Homo sapiens: one gene and its partners. The protein of the gene in region 4 purifies or fractionates together with the protein of the main gene of each other region. This does not show direct contact. Each region holds a gene or a part of one and is shown on either strand. Other genes may lie near its edges.

Region 1 (5,062 bases), on a different chromosome or scaffold from region 4:
AACCTCCGCCTCCCAGGTTCAAGCAATTCTTTTGCCTCAGCCTCCTGAGTAGCAGGGATTACAGGCATGCACCACCACACCTGGCAAATTTTTGTATTTTTAGTAGAGATGGGGTTTCACCATGTTGGCCAGGCTGGTTGCGAACTCCTGGGCTCAAGGGATCTGCCAGCCTCGGCCTCCCAAAGTGCTGGGATTACAGGTGTGAGTCACTGCGCTTGTCCTTCCTCTGCCTCTCTCTTATAGGGATACTGGTGATGCCATGCAGGACCTGCCCAGATAATCGAGGATAACCTTCTCTCCAAATCCTTCCCCTGATCATTCCTACAGATCTCTTCCATAGAAGGTGACATTTCCAGGCTCTAGGAATTAGGACCTGCTCTCTCTGGGTGGCCGTTGTTCACTCCATCACCCCACGTTTCCCCATCCTACCAAAAGACACAGCAGCATTGTGTGAACTGCCCAAACTGAAAACCTACGAGTTATTCTCGACCTGTCCTTTTTCCTGAGCAAGTTCTGTGGATTTAACTTAGCGGTCACACTGCCAATTTCAACCTAACTCCACTGCCACCAACTCAGTCCAGGCCACCAGTTCTTGTTTAGGTGACTCCCATGACCCCCATTGGTCTCTCCCTGCCTCAACTCTGCCCCCTCCATCCTATATCCCCACACTGTAACCAGACTGATTATTTATTTTTTGGGGAAAGAATCTTGCTCTATCCCCCTGGCTGGAGTGCAGTGGCACAATCTCAGCTTACTGCAACCCCAGCCTCCCAGGTTCAAATGGTTCTCCTGCTTCAGCCTCCCAAGTAGCTGAGATTACAGGTGTCTACCACCATGCCTGGCTAATCTTTGTATTTTTAGTAGAGACGGGGTTTTGTCATGTTGGCCAGGCTGGTCTTGAACTCCTGACCTCAAGTGATCTGCCTGCATTGGCCTCCCAAAGTGCTAGGATTACAGGTGTGAGCCACCACACCTGGCCAGACTGATCTTTTAAAGAAGTATATGTTAGCACAGCACTCCATGACTTAAAAACCTTAAGAGGACTACCATTTCTTTCAAGATAAAAGAATAAAATCCTCGCTGGGCACAGTGGTTCATGCCTGTAATCACTGCTTTGGGAAGCCGAGGTGGGAAGATCACTTTAGGCCAGGAGTTCGAGACCATCCATGGGCAACATGGTGAGACCACATCTCTACAAAAGATAAAATTAGCTAGGAGTGGTGGTGCATGCCTGTAGTCCCAGCTACTTGGAGAGTGAAGTGGGAGGATCGCTTGAGCCCTGGAGTTTGAGGCTGCAGTGAGCTATGACGGTGCCACTGCACTCCAGCCTGGGTGACGGAGTGGGACCTCATCAAAAACAAAAACAAAACCGTTATTGTGGCTTTGAGGCCTGGATCATACCTACATCACTTAATTTGGCCAAACCGGCCCATTTCAGGTACCCAAATACCCCACGTGCTTTCTTGCTTGGCTCTGGGACTAATGTGGTTACTGGTGCAGGGTGAATGGCAGGTATTGTAAACCACATTGTGGACCTAGAGTTGCTAGGACCTTTTTTGCCATTACACAGAAGCCTCCCTGAGAACACAGCCATTGGATGACACATGGCAGAGGAAGATAAGACAATAAACGGAGACACAAAATTATGGCCAGCGCGGGGGCTCATGCCTGTAATCCCAGAACTTTGGGAGGCCAGGGTGGGCAGATCACCTAAGGTCAGGAGTTCAAGGCCAACCTGGCAAACATAGTGAAACCCCATCTCTACTAAAAATACAAAAATTAGCCAGGTGTGGTGGCGTGGGCCTGTAGTCCCAGCTACTCGGGAGGCTGAGGCAGGAGAATTGCTTGAACCCGGGAGGCGGAGGTTGCAGTGTGCCGCGATTGCGACACTGCGCGACAGAGTGAGACTCTGTGTCAAAAAAAAATTATATATATATATATATATATATAATGACTAATACACATGTGAAGATATTTAACCTCAGTAACTTCAGTTAAACAGCAGTAAAATCCCATTATTTGCCCATCAGATTGGCAAAAACTTAAGAACTAGAGAAGAAGTGGCGAAACGGGCTGCAGCGTCGCACTCCCTACCCCGGCAGGTGCGCGATCACACACACGCCTTGCAGGGCGACTTCGACCGGCACTTCCGGTCCCGGAAGGTCGTGCTTTTTGACCCCGGAAGTCCGGGCGGGCGCCGAGCCGGGTGCGTTTTGCCACAGAGCCGTAAAGGCGCGCGGGAACATGGGGCTGTATGCTGCAGCTGCAGGCGTGTTGGCCGGCGTGGAGAGCCGCCAGGGCTCTATCAAGGGGTTGGTGTACTCCAGCAACTTCCAGGTAGCGGACCTGGGCGCGAGTAGTAGGGGTGGGGAGTGAGGAACCCGGGGTGGGGTCGGACGGGCCCGGGTGGGGTCGGGAGGTGGGGCCCGGCGAGGAGGGCCGGGGGAGCCCCCACCCAGCTTGTCTTCCTCGGCCACACAGAACGTGAAGCAGCTGTACGCGCTGGTGTGCGAAACGCAGCGCTACTCCGCCGTGCTGGATGCTGTGATCGCCAGCGCCGGCCTCCTCCGTGCGGAGAAGAAGCTGCGGCCGCACCTGGCCAAGGTGAGGGGAGGGGAGGGACGGGGAAGTGAACCCCGACGGTCAGCGCTTTGTCATCTGGTCTCAGCTCTGCTGCCGTGCACGGCGGGACTGGAGCAAGTCGCTCATCTGAAATGAGTATGAGCCGACCTTCCCTGGGTTACGAATTAAGATGGGATGAAAATGCTTTAACTTTGAGTGTTTTGAAGGATTAAATAACCGAAGTACAAAGTGGTAGTGGCGGAGACTGTAAGGAAGTCGGGCGTGGCGGCGCGCACCTGTGGTCCCAGCTACTCGGGAGGCTGAGGGAGGAGGATCACTTGAGCCCAGGAGGTCGAAGCTGCAGTGAGCTATGATCTGGCCACTGCACTTCAGCCTGGGCGACAGAGCTAGACCCCATTCTAAAAAGAAAACCCAAACCCACGAAAGGGTAATGTTGGCAAGAAGTTGGGTGCAGAGGTGTCTACTGGTGAACATCGGTGGAGAAAGGGTCTAAGGCTGGGAAGCGAGACGCCAGGTTCCGATCCTGTTCTGTAGTTAATTTCTGGTGTGATCTTGGATAAGGTATCCCACCTGTATCTTGTCAGGTGATCTGTTTAGCCATTCCATTGCCGGGGCTCCATTAGAGTTAGTTCTAAGGCATTCATGCTTCATGCTTAGGGCATTTTTGTTTTTGTCTTTGTTCCCTCATTCCCAGGTGCTAGTGTATGAGTTGTTGTTGGGAAAGGGCTTTCGAGGGGGTGGGGGCCGATGGAAGGCTCTGTTGGGCCGGCACCAGGCGAGGCTCAAGGCTGAGTTGGCTCGGCTCAAGGTTCATCGGGGTGTGAGCCGGAATGAGGACCTGTTGGAAGTGGGATCCAGGCCTGGTCCAGGTAAGCTGGAAGGAGTTGGGGGGTGGGGGAGGCGGGGAACTTTGCTCCTGCCTACTCACTGCTCATTGCGTCCTACGTAGCCTCCCAGCTGCCTCGATTTGTGCGTGTGAACACTCTCAAGACCTGCTCCGATGATGTAGTTGATTATTTCAAGAGACAAGGTTTCTCCTATCAGGGTCGGGCTTCCAGGTGAGAGCTTAGAGCCCTGGCTGTCCTCATCTAGGGAGGTGTCTGGGGTATTGGGAAGAGAAGTGGCTGGATAGTTGTGACTTTGCTCTCTGGGCTTTCTTCCTACCTTTCCAGCAGTTTATCCATCTCCAAGGTTTGTCTTCCTGCCATCCCTTAAACATCGAACTCCTAGGAGCCTCATCCTACATTCTTCTTGATCTCTCCGTTTTTTCTCTAGCTTTAACTCCTGCCTCCCACCTGGTGATTCTCACCACCCAGTGTAGACTTCCCTCTTGCATTCTTACCTCCTCAGGTTCATATGAACGCACCACAGATGCTAACAGTCGCTGCATTTGTCATCTTTCCTCTCAGACTTTACACCTAGTACATCCCCAGTTAAATCTAACAGATGTCACCATCTTCCACCCATTTGGTCAAGCCAGAAACTGAGTCATCCTAGGTGCTTCCTTCTCCTCCCTCCAATCATTTACTCCCCTACCTTGAGCATCTTTCTCAGCTCCACTCCTTTCTCTCTTTTTTTTTTAGACTGAGTCTCACTCTGTCATCCAAGCTGGAGTGCAGTGGCATGATCTTGGCTCACTGCCTCCCGGGTTCAAGCGATGCTCCTGCCTCAGCCTCCTGAGTAGCTGGAATTAGAGGCTCCCACCACCAATGTCCAGCTAATTTTTGTATTTGCAGTAGAGATGAGGTTTCACCATGTTGGCCATGCTGGTCTGAAACTCCTGAACTCAGGTGATCTGCCCGCCTTGGTCTCCCAAAGTGCTCGGATTACAGGCGTGAGCCACCACATCTGGCCTCCACTCCTTTCTCTTCAGCCCCTCGGACACTGCCTAGGTTAAGCACTCATTTCTTATTGGGATGACCACAAGAACTTCCCAGACTGGTTTCTCTGCTTCCAGACTGTCTCACTGCATTTTCCTTGAGGTTGACTGTAGGAAGCTCTAAAGCCAGATCTGATGCTGTTACTCCTCTGCTAAGCTTTTTTTTTTTTTTTTTTTTTTTTTTTTTGAGACAAGGGTTTTGCTCTTGTTGCCCAGGCTGGAGTGCAATGGCGCAATCTCGGCTCACTGCAACCTCTGCCTCCTGGGTTCAAGCAATTCTCCTGCCTCAGCCTCCTGAGTAGCTGGGATTACAGGGATGCAGCACCACGCCCGGCTAATTTTGTATTTTTAGTAGAGACGGGGTTTCTCCATGTTGGTCAGGCTGGTCTCGAGGCTCCTGACTTCAGGTGATCTGCCCGCCTCGGCCTCCCAAAGTGCTGGGATTACAGGTGTGAGTCACCGTGCCCGGCCATGCTAAGCCCTTTCTTGGCTCCACTGTGCTGTCCCTCCTGCTTTCTCTCAGGTCCATCTGCCACGGTGCTGCGTGCACCAGTGTGCCAGCAACAGTGGCTGGTCCCTGCCCCGTGCCTCCTCCACTGG
Region 2 (4,414 bases), on a different chromosome or scaffold from region 4:
GAGGCAGGAGAATCACTTGAACCCAGGAGGCAGAGGTTGCAGTGAGGTGAGATCGCACCCCTGCACTCCAGCCTGAGCGACAGAGCAAAACTCTATTTAAAAAAAAAAAAAAAAATGCATTTTCCTGATTCCTAATGAGGCTGAGCATATTTAAATGTTTATTGGCTGTTCACTGGCATTTGCGAACTCCTGTTTAAACTTTTTCCACTTTTTGCTGGATCTTTTTCTTACTGCTTTGTATTTCATTTCAATATTCTGGATGCTAATAATTTGTTGCTAGTGCTGCATATATTTTCTGCTAGTTTGTGACTCATCTTCACTCATCTTTCTTCATGTTGTTTCAAAAATAGTATCTTTTAATGCAGATATTTTCTGCTTTATTACTTTGAGGTTATAATTGCTGTAGTGCATTGCTTTTTCTCTTCTGAACATTTTATACACTCACCTTTCACCTTTAATCTACCGGTCCCACCAAAACTAAAATACACTGTTTCTGAATATTGTGGGTCTGTTTCAGGAGTTTATTGTTCTGCTTGTCTATTTTTTTTCTGTTCACTAATGCCACATCGTCTGATACTAAGTCTTGTTATTTTGTAGAACAAGGACCCCCAAAACTTTTTAGTCTTTTGGCTGTTCTTGGCTTTTTGTTTTTCCAAGTAAATTTTAGAAATAGGTTGATCAAGTCTCCCCGCTTCCATTGGTTTTTTTCCCCTTTGTTAGAATTGTGTTAAATCTAAATCAAGTTCGGGAAAAGATATATCTCCTCACCATTGAGATAAACTATCCATAAATAATGTTATCTGCCCAATTTTTAGGTGTTTTTAAAATATTTTAATAACTTACTAACGTGTTCCCCATAAGTCTTGTGCTTTGTTTTTTTGAGACAGTGTCTCACTCTTCCATCCAGGCTGGAGTGTAGTGGTACAATCATAGCTCACTGCGCCCTTGACGCCCTGGGCTCAAGTGATCCTCCCACCTCAGCCTCCTGACCAGCTGGGACTATAGTCATGCACCACCATGTCCAGCTAGTTTTTTATTTTTATTTTTAAAAATTCTTAGTAGAGACAAAATCTCAAACTCCTGGCCTTCCAGAGTGCTGGGATTACAGGTATGAGTCACTGCACCTGACGTAAGTCTTGTGCATTTTTGTTAAGAACAAATGTAAGTACTTTCTGTCACCATTTGTCAAAGGAAACTTTAAAGGTTAAATGTTATGTTTATTGATGGTATTACTTCTTTTATGATGTGTCTAGGTTTATAATTTTTTATTTATCCTGCTTGGGATTCAGTGAGCATCAAATTCTAGGGTTAACTTTCTTTAGCTCTAGAATATTTTCAGCTGTTATTAAATATTGCCTCCTTCTTGTTTACTTTATGCTCTAATTCTGGATCCCTGGTAATGTTAGACTTTTGTTATTAAGTTTCATTTCTTTATCACTCTCTGCTGAAAAGCAGTCTATGCTTTGTCTGTTCCATTGATGTTTGAATTGGAATGCTTGTGTTTTTCATTTTGGTACTTCAAATCTTTTTGAAGTCTACTTGGTTATTTGTAAGTCTTTTGCTCTTTACTCATTTTCAGAATTTACTTTTATTAAACACATTAAATTCCTTGTTGAACTCTTCGCTGGTCTTACTCTTATTTTTCATGGCTCTTGCTCATTAAGGTACCTTGTTTACTTTATGATGTGTTTGTGTGTTGTGTGTGATATTTTGAAAATGTGTTCTTTGGAACTTCACCTGTAGAAAAATTTTGAGGCCTAGGTAAGAAGGTGATTGCTTCCATGAAGTCTCTGAATTGGTGCTACCAACTCAAGGACCCCTTGAAAGTCTCAGCATGGTGTTTTTTTGTTTGTTCCAATTACTTTGGTAATACAGAATTCCAGATGAAAGGCTGGCTGTGGCTCTGAATTTTCAGGGGAAGTTCTTTTAATCTCACTACTCAACTGTCCGTTTCTGTAGGACAGGTTTATACCATTATGCTTGCCGGTATTAGCATTTGGAGTTGCAGATTTATTTTGGAAGGTGTCTGGTTAGACCACATACATTCTCTTCCTCTGAATATAGACTTTGTATCCTGTGTCCTGCATTACCTTCAAAATAAAATTGCAGCCAGGAGTGGCGGCTTATGCTTCTAATCCCAGAACTTTGGGAGAGTGAGGCAGGCAACTCACTTGAGTCCAAGAGTTCTAGACCAGCCTGGGCAGCATGATGAAAACCCGTCTCTATAAAAAAAAAAAAGCAAAACATTTAGTAGGTTGCGAGCATGTAGTTCCAGCTACACTTGAGGGGAGGCTGAGCCCAGGAGATGGAGGTTGCAGTGAACCGTGATTGCACCACTGCACCGGAGCTTGGGTGACAGAGGTAGACCCTGTCTTTAAATAAAACATTATTTTTATATTTAATATTTATTTTTTCTTTTTATTTTTTGTAGAGACGAAGTTTCGCCATATTGCCCAGGTTGGTCTTGAACTCCTGGGCTCAAGGGATCTACCTGCCTCAGCCTCCCAAAGTGCTGAGATTATAGGCATGAGTTGTATATTTTTTTCCTGTGGTTAAAGATCTCCAGAGCTTTCCATTTTAGGAGGATGTTTGCTATAACTCTTTGTTCTTTTTTTGCAGGGGTAGGGTGAGACATGGTCTTGCTCTGTGTCACCCAGGCTAGAGTACAGTGACACAATCAAGACTCACTACAGCCTTGACTTCCTGAGCTCAAGCGAGCCTCCTAACTCAGCCTCCTGAGTAGCTGGGACCAGATGCATGTGCCACCATGCCCAGCTTGTTTTTTTTTTTTTTTTTCTTTTTTTTGGAGAGATGGGATCGCCCTCTGTTGCCCAGATGCACATGTTTTTGTTCTTAACTAATCTTTATACTGTCAGCATCTTGTACAGTGTTTGGTCTATCTATATAGCATAGGTGCTCAATAGTTGTTTGTGGGAACAAAGGAATGAGACCTTTCTCTTCTGAGGATTTAAACCTAAAAGGAGCTAGTTATCTTTTTGTGAGGAGATTGGGTTTAATATTTATGGATAGCTAGGTAGGAGCTGGTATGCTTTGGTTGGGACGGAAGGTTAAGCAAAGGTTATGTCTCGGGCAGAGTGTAGGAGTGAAATTTGTTTAGTATAAAAGGTTAAAACTCGTATGTAATTTCTCACTAATGAGTTATCATAATTGTCTCTTTGTTCTCTGGAGACTACAGAAGAATGAATGAAAATGGGTATTGTGACTGCGCCTCATCCCTAAGAAAGTATGAATTGCTTCCTTCTCTCTCTCTCTACTAATTCTAAGATGATTTTTATTTTCTTCCTAGATAACGGAGGAGATGATGGATCAGGCAAATGATAAAAAAGTGGCTGCTATTGAAGCCCTAAATGATGGTGAGTAATCTTTTTGCTACATTTCTATGGTAGTCAGAATATTTATTGCAGTAACTTAAATAGTGGTAAAGTAGAAGAGAAGTTACATGTACCTGTCCTATACTGGAGAAGATAGTGTCCTATTATCCAGTCACCCCTTCCTCATTGATAAAAGAGGCTGAAATCACTTCTCTCTGCAAGGACAGATCCTTATTTGATTCAGTGTCTCTGATTTCCTGACCCTATCGTGGTGTTTTTCTGCTGAGAAGAGGCTTTAAAGAGGTGAAAGGCTTTAAAAAAAAAAAAAAAAAGTAGTAGTAGAACAGTGACCCTTAACTTTTTACATACTAATACCCTTGACAGATGATGTTCATAGGCATACCAATCTTCGTCCTAGTCAGAGCATGTTAGATTCTCTTGAGTAAATCCCCTCAGAGTGAGAAAGTGGTGATAGTATTCGGTTTTGTTTTTTGTTTGTTTGTTTGGTTGGTTTTTTTGAGACGGATTCTCACTCTGTTGCCCAGGCTGGAGTGCAGTGATGCGATCTCGGCTCACTACAACCTCCGCCTCCCGGGTTCAAGCAGTCCTCCTGCCTCAGCCTCCCGAGTAGCTGGGATTACAAGCGCGTACCACCATGCCCAGCTAATTTTTTGTATTTTTATTAGAGAAGGGGTTTCACCATGCTGGCCAGTCTGGTCTTGAACTCCTGACCTCGTGATCTGCCCGCCTCAGCCTCCCAAAGTGCTGGGATAACAGGCATGAACCACTGCGCCCAGCCTCTTTTTTTATATATATTTATTTTTTTAACTCTCCAAGGTAACAATAGGTTATTATTTTTTTCTTTTTTCTGTTTTTCAGTTGTATTTTATTTTATTTTTTATTTTTGAGACAGAGTCGTGCTTTGTCGTCCAGGCTGGAATGCAGTGGCGTGATCTCGGCTCTCTGCAACCTCCACCCCAAGTCGAGCAATTCTCCTGCCTCAGCCTCCCTAGTAGCTGGGATTACAGGCGTGTGCTACCATCTCCAGCTAATTTTTGTATTTTTAGTAGAGACGGGGTTTC
Region 3 (4,414 bases), about 140 Mb from region 4:
CAACATTTTCACTGCTTTCTGCTGCAATTTTCTGTTTTGGATTTTCAGTCACCTCGTTTTGGGCTTCCACTGCTGACTTTCTGTCAGTAGACTTTACCTGCTCTTCTTCCTTAATTTCACTTAAATCTGTGTTCTGATACGTTAACTCTTTTTTAACATCTTTAAGGGTTTCTACGGGTACTGGGGATTTTTTCTTCTTGTTTTTCTTTTTCTTGTTCTTTGTCTTCTTCTGCGATGAGTCCAATGCCTCTCCCTGTTGGTCACTCTTTTCTTCATCGGGCTCTTTCATATCTAAGGGTTCATTTTGAGTGTCTACTGTACTTGGACCTGTCGCTTCCTGACAGTTGCCCTCAGTTCCTGCTGGAGAACCAGGAACTTCTGTCTTGATTGGTTTCTCGTCCCTTAATCCTGTTTCTTCACCCTCTTCTTCGTTGTGATCCCTACCTACTTCTGTACTGTGCGCTGGAACCTCCTTGGGCTCAGCTGCTTCCTGGTTGGTGAATTCTTTCTCTAAACTATGCCCTGTGCTTGTCTCTAACTCTTGGGGGACCTCTACCATACATTTGTCATCATGATAAACTGTGTCATCACTATGCCCTAAAGGACACGAGGCCACTGTGCCTGCCTGCTCTTCAACCTGAGTCACTGCTGCCTCTCCCACATTCTCTGTGTGGTTCCCACCATCTAAGTCACTCCAACAGTTGGATGGCTCAAGGGGAGTTCTGGTCCTGTCATCTGGTGCACCCATGACCTCATTTGACTCAACCTGTACTGTGTTTTCAGGGAGAGAACTGCTCTCAAGAATTTGGCTTTGAACCTGTTCCTCATAGGTAGCACCTGCTAAGGTTCCTAGGAATGGGGCAGTGTCTTCAGAGGATTTCTGGTCCTCGGTATTCTCACCAGCAGGGAATACCTCTATGTCCACACAGTCCTTCACTGTGTCCTCTGTGTGTTGTTCTTTCTCAGTATTGTGCAAGATTTCTCTTTTCCCCACATTCGCCACGATTTCATTTTTCACCTCCACTTCACTGGCTCTTCCTAAAAGACCATTGAGAAAATTGAAGGGACCCCATGATGTGGCGGCCACATAATCTACATTAGAATGTAAACACACGTTCCAAATCCCACCCACCCCTATTCCTAAAGACAGAGTCATCAAAGAGTCATGAGAAACAAGCCTTTGCCAGTTCTGTGCGGCAAAGCAGCAGTTGCATTAGTAAATTTTGGGTCAGTGAGGGCCACTGCCACCACATCAAAGGCCAGAGTGGCTGCTGGTGCCATCTTGTGTGGACAGATTTTTAAAGGTGACGTTAAGTTTCAACAAATAGAAAGAACTCTGGATCAGGCAGCCAAACAATCCACAATGATGGGTTTAGGAACAGACTGAAGGTTCAATTCCCCACTCTCACTTCTCAATGAACAACTTGACAACTTGTACTTTTGCAGCTGTCAAACTGCACTCCATGTCACACAGCCCTAAAAGCAGCTTTCAAGTAATTTTTAAAAAGAATATTCAGTGCACTTTTAGAAATGCAGCCTCAAGGTCAGTCTCAAGGAAGATGCTTTTGAAATAGCTCATATGAAAGGAAATCTATCTTCTGCCACTCAACTATTGTTTTCCTGAGAAAACACCCTGTGTCCATGCCCTGATACCTCTGCTCCATTCCCTAAGGGACTAGGGAGAGAGGACCAGCAGGAGGCAAATGTTCAAGATCAAGATGACCACTAAATTAAATGATAAATTATTCATCGTCTAAAGAACATCAAACTGTTTTGGAATTTTTGGACTCTCCAAACAAAACCCCAGCAGATTAGATATGGTACTATGTTACTGAAAGTCAAAGCTAGATAATTTTATAGCCCAGTGATCTCCATGGTGGGGTGCCCATATCCCAGGGAAAATGGGGGAAATATTAGGAATTCTATTTAGAGTTTTACTCTAAAACTTCTTTGCATATCTTTGCATATATTTTATAACGTACATTTTATATTAATGAAATAGTATACATATGTAGATTTAAAATAAACATACATATTGGATCCTACAATTCTTTGCTGAAGGAATATGTGATCAAAAGTCATTTGAAGGCCACTTTCAAAACTGACATTTCTGGTTCTTACAACATTTCACAATGGTTATCAAAGATTTATAAAATGTGTATTTGAGTAAGAGCAGCGTAATCAGATTCCTAGCTGTTCGGGTAGCTCATATAAAGGTATGATGGAAATTGATTAATTTATCTTTTCTCAACAACGGTATATAGATACTACATACCTATCTAGAGACGGAATCTTGCTAGGTTGCCAGGCTGGCCTGGAATTCCTGGTCTTAAGTGATCCTCCAGCCTTGGCCACCCGCAGCGCTGGGATTAGAAGTGTGAGCCACTGCACTAGGCCACAACTTTTTTTACACAATTGAAAAGAGCTGTGTTTCTTTAATAGTCATAAAGATAATGAATGAGGTACCTCCCTGGAATGCGAGGCCTGAGAAGATGGGGCCTGGAGGTGTCTACATTTCCATAAATAAAAAGAAATAAGATGAAAGCTTCTACATTAAAATGAAAAGTCACGGACCCTGACCTTATTCCAGCCTCTTTGTAAAACACTGGAACGCAGAGGGTGACCAGTGACAGATGAGGCCTCACTTGCACGCTGCAACTTCAGGCTGCACGCCAGAATCTGAAGGTTTCTCCCAAAGCCAACTCTTATGACAAATTATGACAAATCAGATCATTGAAAATGGTATAAAATATTCCTCTGATCTACTGGATTCCCCAGTTTTATATTCTTTCAGAAGCAAACACGTGGCATACAAAGGAGGATCCCCTCTGACAAAGGTGGGCATACTCAGACTCTCAGCACCGCCACACCCACTACCACGGCCGCCTGCCCACCTCGAGCGGTGGCTTGAAAAAGGCAACACAGACGGACCTGCTGTCCACAGGCACCCCGTACCCTCAAAGCGCTGAATGCTGCCCAGGATGTCGATGTTGGCTTGCAAATATGGCCAACTGACTTGACGGCCTCAACCATTCTGATCTTTTGATAATTCTGTCATAGAATCGGTTTAAAAAGCCACACTTTATAGGTACAGATATATATGTGTCTGAGGAAAACCAAATAGTACTCTCCACATTGTTACTTAATTTTGAGACTGTTTTCCTTTTGCCTTCACAGTCTTGCTTGGTAGCTTTGAGCAGCAAAAGAAAAGGTTCACTTGAGCCATTGATGGTGCACTACACAGAGATGCATGCCAGACAACACGTGGGTGACCACACCGGGTGGGCAAGGAAATTACCATGAAGTGATGAAACAAATGGCATGCTGGTGACTGTTAACCCATCAGCGACGGTGGCTCCAACCCCAGCAGTGCATGGAGGGTGAACCAATGCTGAGTGGAAAGGTGTGAGGAGCCGAAGGAAAGCAAATACTTACCTAGGGTCCCATCCCCTGTCGACTTGAGGGCATTTAACTCTTCTTTTGTCATCTTGGTAGGACCTTGGTATCCAACATTATTGAGGGTGTCGGAAGTCTCTCCATTGGTAGCTATTTCTGAATTTAGGATTATTCCATGTTTCTGGGAACAAAAATAGGCTCATCGTAATATTTACTCAGTGATATTAGGTTAAACTCTGTTTTAATACAATAATAAAAAAGAAAACCATTTTTTCCTGAAGTACAGGGTAACTCCACAGAGACAAGAGAAATGCTAGGGTGCAGCACTCGTAAATATTCGGTCAACACACACAAATCTGGGATATCGTCCTCCAAAGGCTACTTCTTTCTCAGATGTTCCAATCCATGCTTTCATTTGCTGGTGACAAGCTACTTCCACCAGGCATCCTTTTTAACTACAGGTAGTGGCCTGTGGGCTGCCCCCAAGTGGAGCAGTAAGCAAGTCACTGCCAAGTGACCTTTCATTTCAAAACCCTGATTGCATTCTTTAAAAAGAGAAACCAGATAAAGAAAGAAATATATACATGTTCTGAAAGAGACACACGAAACTTATGTTAAAGAAGGAATTCAGAGGTGGCTAGAATGTTCAGTATATTCAAAAGAAACAGAATTCACTGAAAACAGCAGCACTTCCCAACTGCAGACATCACTCACCCATGCCCTCCTGCCGCCTGTGGCTCTCTCTCCCTTGTGTGTGAGGAACTCCCCTGAACTGATCGCCTCTTCAAGGAGCAGAATTACGAATCTTAGCTCTAAGCCTGTAGCTGGCTGGCTCACTGCTCTGGCTTTGACCCTGGAGGCCAAGCAGCAGATGGTGACGGTTCAGGAACCCCCCCACCCAGAGTGCTGCCACTGGCGCTTCACCTGTGTCAAGCAGCGGCTGAAGACGCCTTGGCGTGGCCCACCAAGGACAGGGAACCGTCTTCCACCTGTAATCTAGTAGGTCTCAAAGTCTAAT
Region 4 (4,961 bases):
ACAAAATATTTACTTGCCCCAAGGAAGCAATGACAAAGATCCCTCTATGACTGATAGGGAATAAACAGAATATATATTCTCTCTGTATTTCATCAGTTTAGGAAAAGAAAGTAAATTAACTAACATAACATCTAAATGAGAAGTCTCTCATGTATTTGCAGCATTCAACTGTGTTATGCCAAGTAGTAGAAATCATCATCATTTAATTCAGATGCAAGAGAAAGTGGACATCCTTCTTACTTTAAAGTTGGTTGGTTCGGTGTCTTTCTGTTTAAGAATCTCTGACATAAAATCAATCAAGTGCAAACCAAAAGCATTCTTGGTAGTGATTTTCTGAAAACAGAAAATTGCAGAAAGGATTGTTATTTATAGCCTAGGCTCATGTAAATAATGCTGCTTTTAACAGAGGAAGCTAAGTCTTTACATAGGAATACCCACATATTGTCACTGATCTCTCTTCCCAAAAACACTTGTCAAGAGCCAAATCCTCACAGGCATGTCCTCATGTTCAAGGCTAGGGAATGACGGCACAAAATTCCTGAATGCTCAGTGTGTGCAGGCCCTGCTCTAAGCACTGCACACAAAGGGACTCACCCTCCAAACAACTTCATGAGGCAGGCACTACCCCCATTCTCCAGAGGACACGGAAGCAAAATGGTTGGGTGGCTCACACACAGCTTAGAAGCATGTAGCCTCCAACTCAGGCTAGCTCCAGAACTCTACTATTAACTCATGCGCCATGCTGCCTTTCTAGATACACAGCAGATAGCTGGCAGCCTCTCAGGAGGTGCACCACGGGTCCAGAGTAAACAGTAAAACCACCAGCACTAAGATGACTCACCAGAGAATTATCATCATTGATTGTGCATTATCTACAGAAACAAGATAGCTGGATTTCCCCTGTGATCAAGGGATTACGTCTTCAATAATAAACCAGCAAATACTCACATTTTCAGTGGACAGTTTGATACAGGTGGAGTAATGTTCCGTAATCTGCGTGTTTGTAAACTTGGGGATAGTAGCTGAAATGTCAATACTCCTAAATGGAAAACAAAAACAAACAACTCTGGCAAGAATCCATGATAGTTTAAATTTTCAAAACCTAGACCCATGAAGTTTTGTGGAGATGCCTGGACCTACGCAGCCCATATCAAGGCGGCTGCCTCAAGGAGAAACAGCCCAGGAGCACCTCACCTGCTGGAGGGGGAGGCCAATAAGCGAGGTGAGTCAGTGCTGAACTGCAGATCAAAGACCCTCGAGCGCCTCCGCTGCAGCCGCTCCTTCTCATCGTCATTCTGAGGAAAGTCTTCGAGGACTGGGGTGCCAGGAATATTGAGAGGCGCCTTCCTGGGCAGGGGCATCGGGAACACACGCTCTGAAGGAGAGGAGGCACTGTGGGGGTGTCCTCGCGTCTCTGAAGAAGAGTTATTCATTGTGGCTGGCAGTGCTGGAACAAAATTCTTGCTCAAGAAACCTTCAAGAGAACATTTCCTATATCCAAAGAAGTCTTGAGCCTGTCACAGGGGTGGAGGTTCACCACACACTGTCCACTGAGATCTTCTCCAACTCTAATACTTAATGGCTAGAACCTCTAGAGTTTGGGTTTCTTGGAGGTGCAGGGGGGAGGCCATAGGTTTCTGATGCTTCTTTGTTAATCTGGGACAAATATCCACTCTGCAGCTATGTGAATTTAAGTACTGCATGGATATAAAAATGGATGATATAATATTGCTGCCTCTGATAAGCTCACAAACTGGACAACAGACATATATAACCCATCATGCCAGGTAAGACAAGGAAGAGACAGATGCTGAGACAAGGGTGAGGTATGGGCTATAGAGTTAGACAGGCTGGGCTCTAATTCCAGCTCCTCCATATCTTGGCAAACAGACAGAGGAAAAACAACATAAACATGTAAAACAAATAGAATGTTCCAAAGAATCATCCAGATTATTTGCTAACTACAAAAGGAAAAATGTCTTTTACAATAAAAACTCTACCAGTCACCACATTAACCAGTCAAATGTAGCCTCACTAAAAATCAATCTGAAAGTTACTCATCTCTTCATGTGACACAATGTGAAATTCATAGCATCACCCAGGAAATATTTCCACCAAACATGTTTAACCTAAATTTAACCAAAGAACTTTAGATCTTTAACTTCTGGTTTATAAGAAATACAAGGGGTCAAGGAACAAGTTAAATGATATCACAAGGAAACACTCTAGAATGCAGGACAGTTTTCAAGAAAACTAGCTTAGTCTCTTAACTTAAAAGATAACAACCAAAAAAAAAAAAAAAAAAGGCCGGACATGGTAGCTCATCCCTGTAATCCTACCCTTTGGGTGGCTGAGGTGGGAGGATCCCTTGAGGCCAGGAGTTAAGAAACAGCCTGGGCTACCGGGCACGGTGGCTCATGCCTGTAATCCCAACACTTTGGGAGGCCGAGGTGGGTGGATCACCTGAGGTCAGGAGTTAGAGACCAGCTGGCCAATATGGTGAAACCCCGTCTCCACTAAAAATACAAAAGTTAGCTGGACGTGGGGGCGGGCGCCTGTAATCCCAGCTACTCAGGAGGCTGAGGCAAGATAATCGCTTGAACCCGGGAGACAGAGGTTGCACTGAGCCAAGACTGTGCCATTGCACTCCAACCCAGGCAACAAGAGTGAAACTCCGTCTCAAAAAAAAAAAAAAAAAAAAAAAAGATGCTTATTAGTATTAGTCATCCTACTGGGTTAGATAGGTGGGTATCTAATCCCAGAATTTAGGGAAAGTTCCAGATGAGATACACACACTGGGAAGTCATCAGCATGTAGAGGGTATTCAGAGCCATAATACTGGATGAGATCACCAAATAACTGAGTAGAGGAACACTTTAAAGGTTTAAAGAGCAGGAAAGCACTTTGGGAGGCTGAGGCAGGCAGATCACATGAGGTCAGGAGTTCGAGACCAGCCCGGTCAACATGGTGAAACCCTGTCTCTACTAAAAATACAAAAATTAGCTGAACGTGGTGGTGGGCGCCTGTAATCTCAGCTACTTGGGAGGCTGAGGCAGGAAAATCGCTTGAACCCGGGAGACGGAGGCTGTAGTGAGCCGAGATGGCGCCACTACACTCTAGCCGGGGCAACAGAGTGAGACTCTGTCACAAAAAATAAATAAATAAGTAAAAATAAAGAAGGAGAAACCAGCAAAAGAGCTGGGAAATGTGCAACTAGTGAGGTGGGAGAAAATCAGGAGAATGTGGCATTCTAAAAGCCAGGTGAAGAAAGTATTTTTAGGGGAGGAGGATGTGATAAACTATGTAGATGAGGACTGAGAACTGATCATTGGATTTAGAACCTAGGGTTACTAGTGATCTTGACAAAAACAGTTTTCCTAGAGTAGTAAGGGAGAAAGCTGAACTGGAGTGGTTCAAGTGAAGATGGGAGAAGAGAAACTGGAGACAGCAAACGATGACAAGGTGTTCAAGGACTTCTCTTTTTTTTTTTTTTTTTTTGAGACAGAGTCTTGCTTTGTCCCCCAGGCTGGAGTGCAGTGACGGGATCTCAGCTCATTGCAACTCCGCCTCCCAGGTTCAAGCAATTCTCCTGCCTCAGCCTCCTGAGTAGCTGGGACTACAGGCGCCCGCCACCACGCCCAGCTACTTTTTTGTATTTTTAGTAGAGACGGGGTTTCACAGTGTTAGCCAGGCTGGTCTCGAACTCCTGACCTCGTGATCTGCCTGTCTTGGATTCCCAGAGTGCTGGAATTACAGGCGTGAGCCACCACGCCCTGCCCAAAGACTTCTACTGTAAAAGGGTGGAGAGAAATGAGAGGGTGAGAGTTGAAAGGGAAGTGAGGAATTTTTAAGACAAAAAAACAAAACAAACAAACAAAAACCTCAGCATGGTAGAAAGAATGAAGCAAAGAGACTGTATTAGTTTTCTATGGCTGCTGTCACAAATGACCACAAACCTAGCGGTTTAAACACACATGTGGCTGGGCGCGGTGGTTCACACCTGTAATCCCAGCACTTTGGGAGGCCGAGGCGAGCAGATCATGAGGTCAGGAGATCCAGACCATCCTGGCCAACACGGTGAAACCCCACCTCTACTAAAAATACAAAAAAATGAGCCGGGCGCAGTGGCGGGTGCCTGTAGTCCCAGCTACTTGGGAGGCTGAGACAGAAGAATGGCATGAACCCAAGAGGTGGAGCTTGCTGTGAGTCGAGATCGCGCCACTGCACTACAGCCTGGGTGACAAAGTGAGACTCCGTCTCAAAAAACAAAAACAAAAACAAAAAAACCCCCACACGTTTATGTGTTCTCTTGCAGCTGTGGAGGGTTACATTCATTCTGGAGGCTTTGAGAGGAGGATCTGTTCCTCGCCTTTTGCAGCTTCAGAGCTGCCTACATTCCTTGGCTCACTGTCCCCCCATCACTCTAACCTCTTGTTCTGTCATCACATCTGCTCTCACTCTACCCCGACGACCTTCCTCTTACAAGGACCACTGTGATTAAACTGGGCCCACCCAGATGATCCATGATAGTCTTCTCAACAGCCTTAACTTAATCACATGAGCAAAGTCTCTTTCACCACGTAAGATAACATATTCACAGGTTCTGGACACCTTTAGGGCAAGTGTTATTCAGCCTATCACAGTGACCATCCAAAATAAAAGGTAAAATTTGCTGAACAATGTACTCAAGCAGGCAAAGAGGTTGCCTTTGTAGAGAGCACAGAAAGCCCATCCTCAGTAACAGGAGAAAAGACAGAGGCACTGGCACAGATGCAGGCAGGGAGCAGGTGCAATGGCAGACTTGGGGATGTTCCTTTTTGTTTGCTTTTTTTTTTTTTTTTTTTTTTCAATAAAATAGGAAGTAAAAACAAGGCTGGGCTCATGCCTGTAATCCTAGCACTTTGGAGGCCAAGGTGGGAGGATCACTTGAGGTCAGGAGTTCGAGACCAGCCTGGCCAACA

Evidence for each region. Proteins that work in one complex are often made in the same cells at the same time.
Region 1: the proteins of NCAPH (region 4) and NSUN5 purify together in Homo sapiens (affinity purification with mass spectrometry; one large-scale study listed by BioGRID and IntAct). This does not show direct contact.
Region 2: the proteins of NCAPH (region 4) and ST13 purify together in Homo sapiens (affinity purification with mass spectrometry; one large-scale study listed by BioGRID and IntAct). This does not show direct contact.
Region 3: the proteins of NCAPH (region 4) and LRRFIP1 fractionate together in Homo sapiens (co-fractionation; one large-scale study listed by BioGRID). This does not show direct contact.

The regions. Positions count from the first base shown.
Region 1 is NC_000007.14:73,305,973-73,311,034, reverse strand, and holds the start of NSUN5 (28S rRNA (cytosine-C(5))-methyltransferase), read left to right. Parts: upstream 1-2,208; 5' UTR 2,209-2,244; coding exon 2,245-2,337; intron 2,338-2,481; coding exon 2,482-2,604; intron 2,605-3,277; coding exon 3,278-3,452; intron 3,453-3,532; coding exon 3,533-3,641; intron 3,642-5,062. UniProt on the Homo sapiens protein: S-adenosyl-L-methionine-dependent methyltransferase that specifically methylates the C(5) position of cytosine 3782 (m5C3782) in 28S rRNA. m5C3782 promotes protein translation without affecting ribosome biogenesis and fidelity.
Region 2 is NC_000022.11:40,839,586-40,843,999, reverse strand, and holds part of ST13 (hsc70-interacting protein), read left to right. Parts: intron 1-3,307; coding exon 3,308-3,374; intron 3,375-4,414. UniProt on the Homo sapiens protein: One HIP oligomer binds the ATPase domains of at least two HSC70 molecules dependent on activation of the HSC70 ATPase by HSP40. Stabilizes the ADP state of HSC70 that has a high affinity for substrate protein.
Region 3 is NC_000002.12:237,759,227-237,763,640, reverse strand, and holds part of LRRFIP1 (leucine-rich repeat flightless-interacting protein 1), read right to left. Parts: intron 3,578-4,414; coding exon 3,436-3,577; intron 1,039-3,435; coding exon of another isoform or gene 1-1,038.
Region 4 is NC_000002.12:96,338,128-96,343,088, reverse strand, and holds part of NCAPH (condensin complex subunit 2), read right to left. Parts: intron 1,448-4,961; coding exon 1,195-1,447; intron 1,040-1,194; coding exon 949-1,039; intron 334-948; coding exon 241-333; intron 1-240. UniProt on the Homo sapiens protein: Regulatory subunit of the condensin complex, a complex required for conversion of interphase chromatin into mitotic-like condense chromosomes.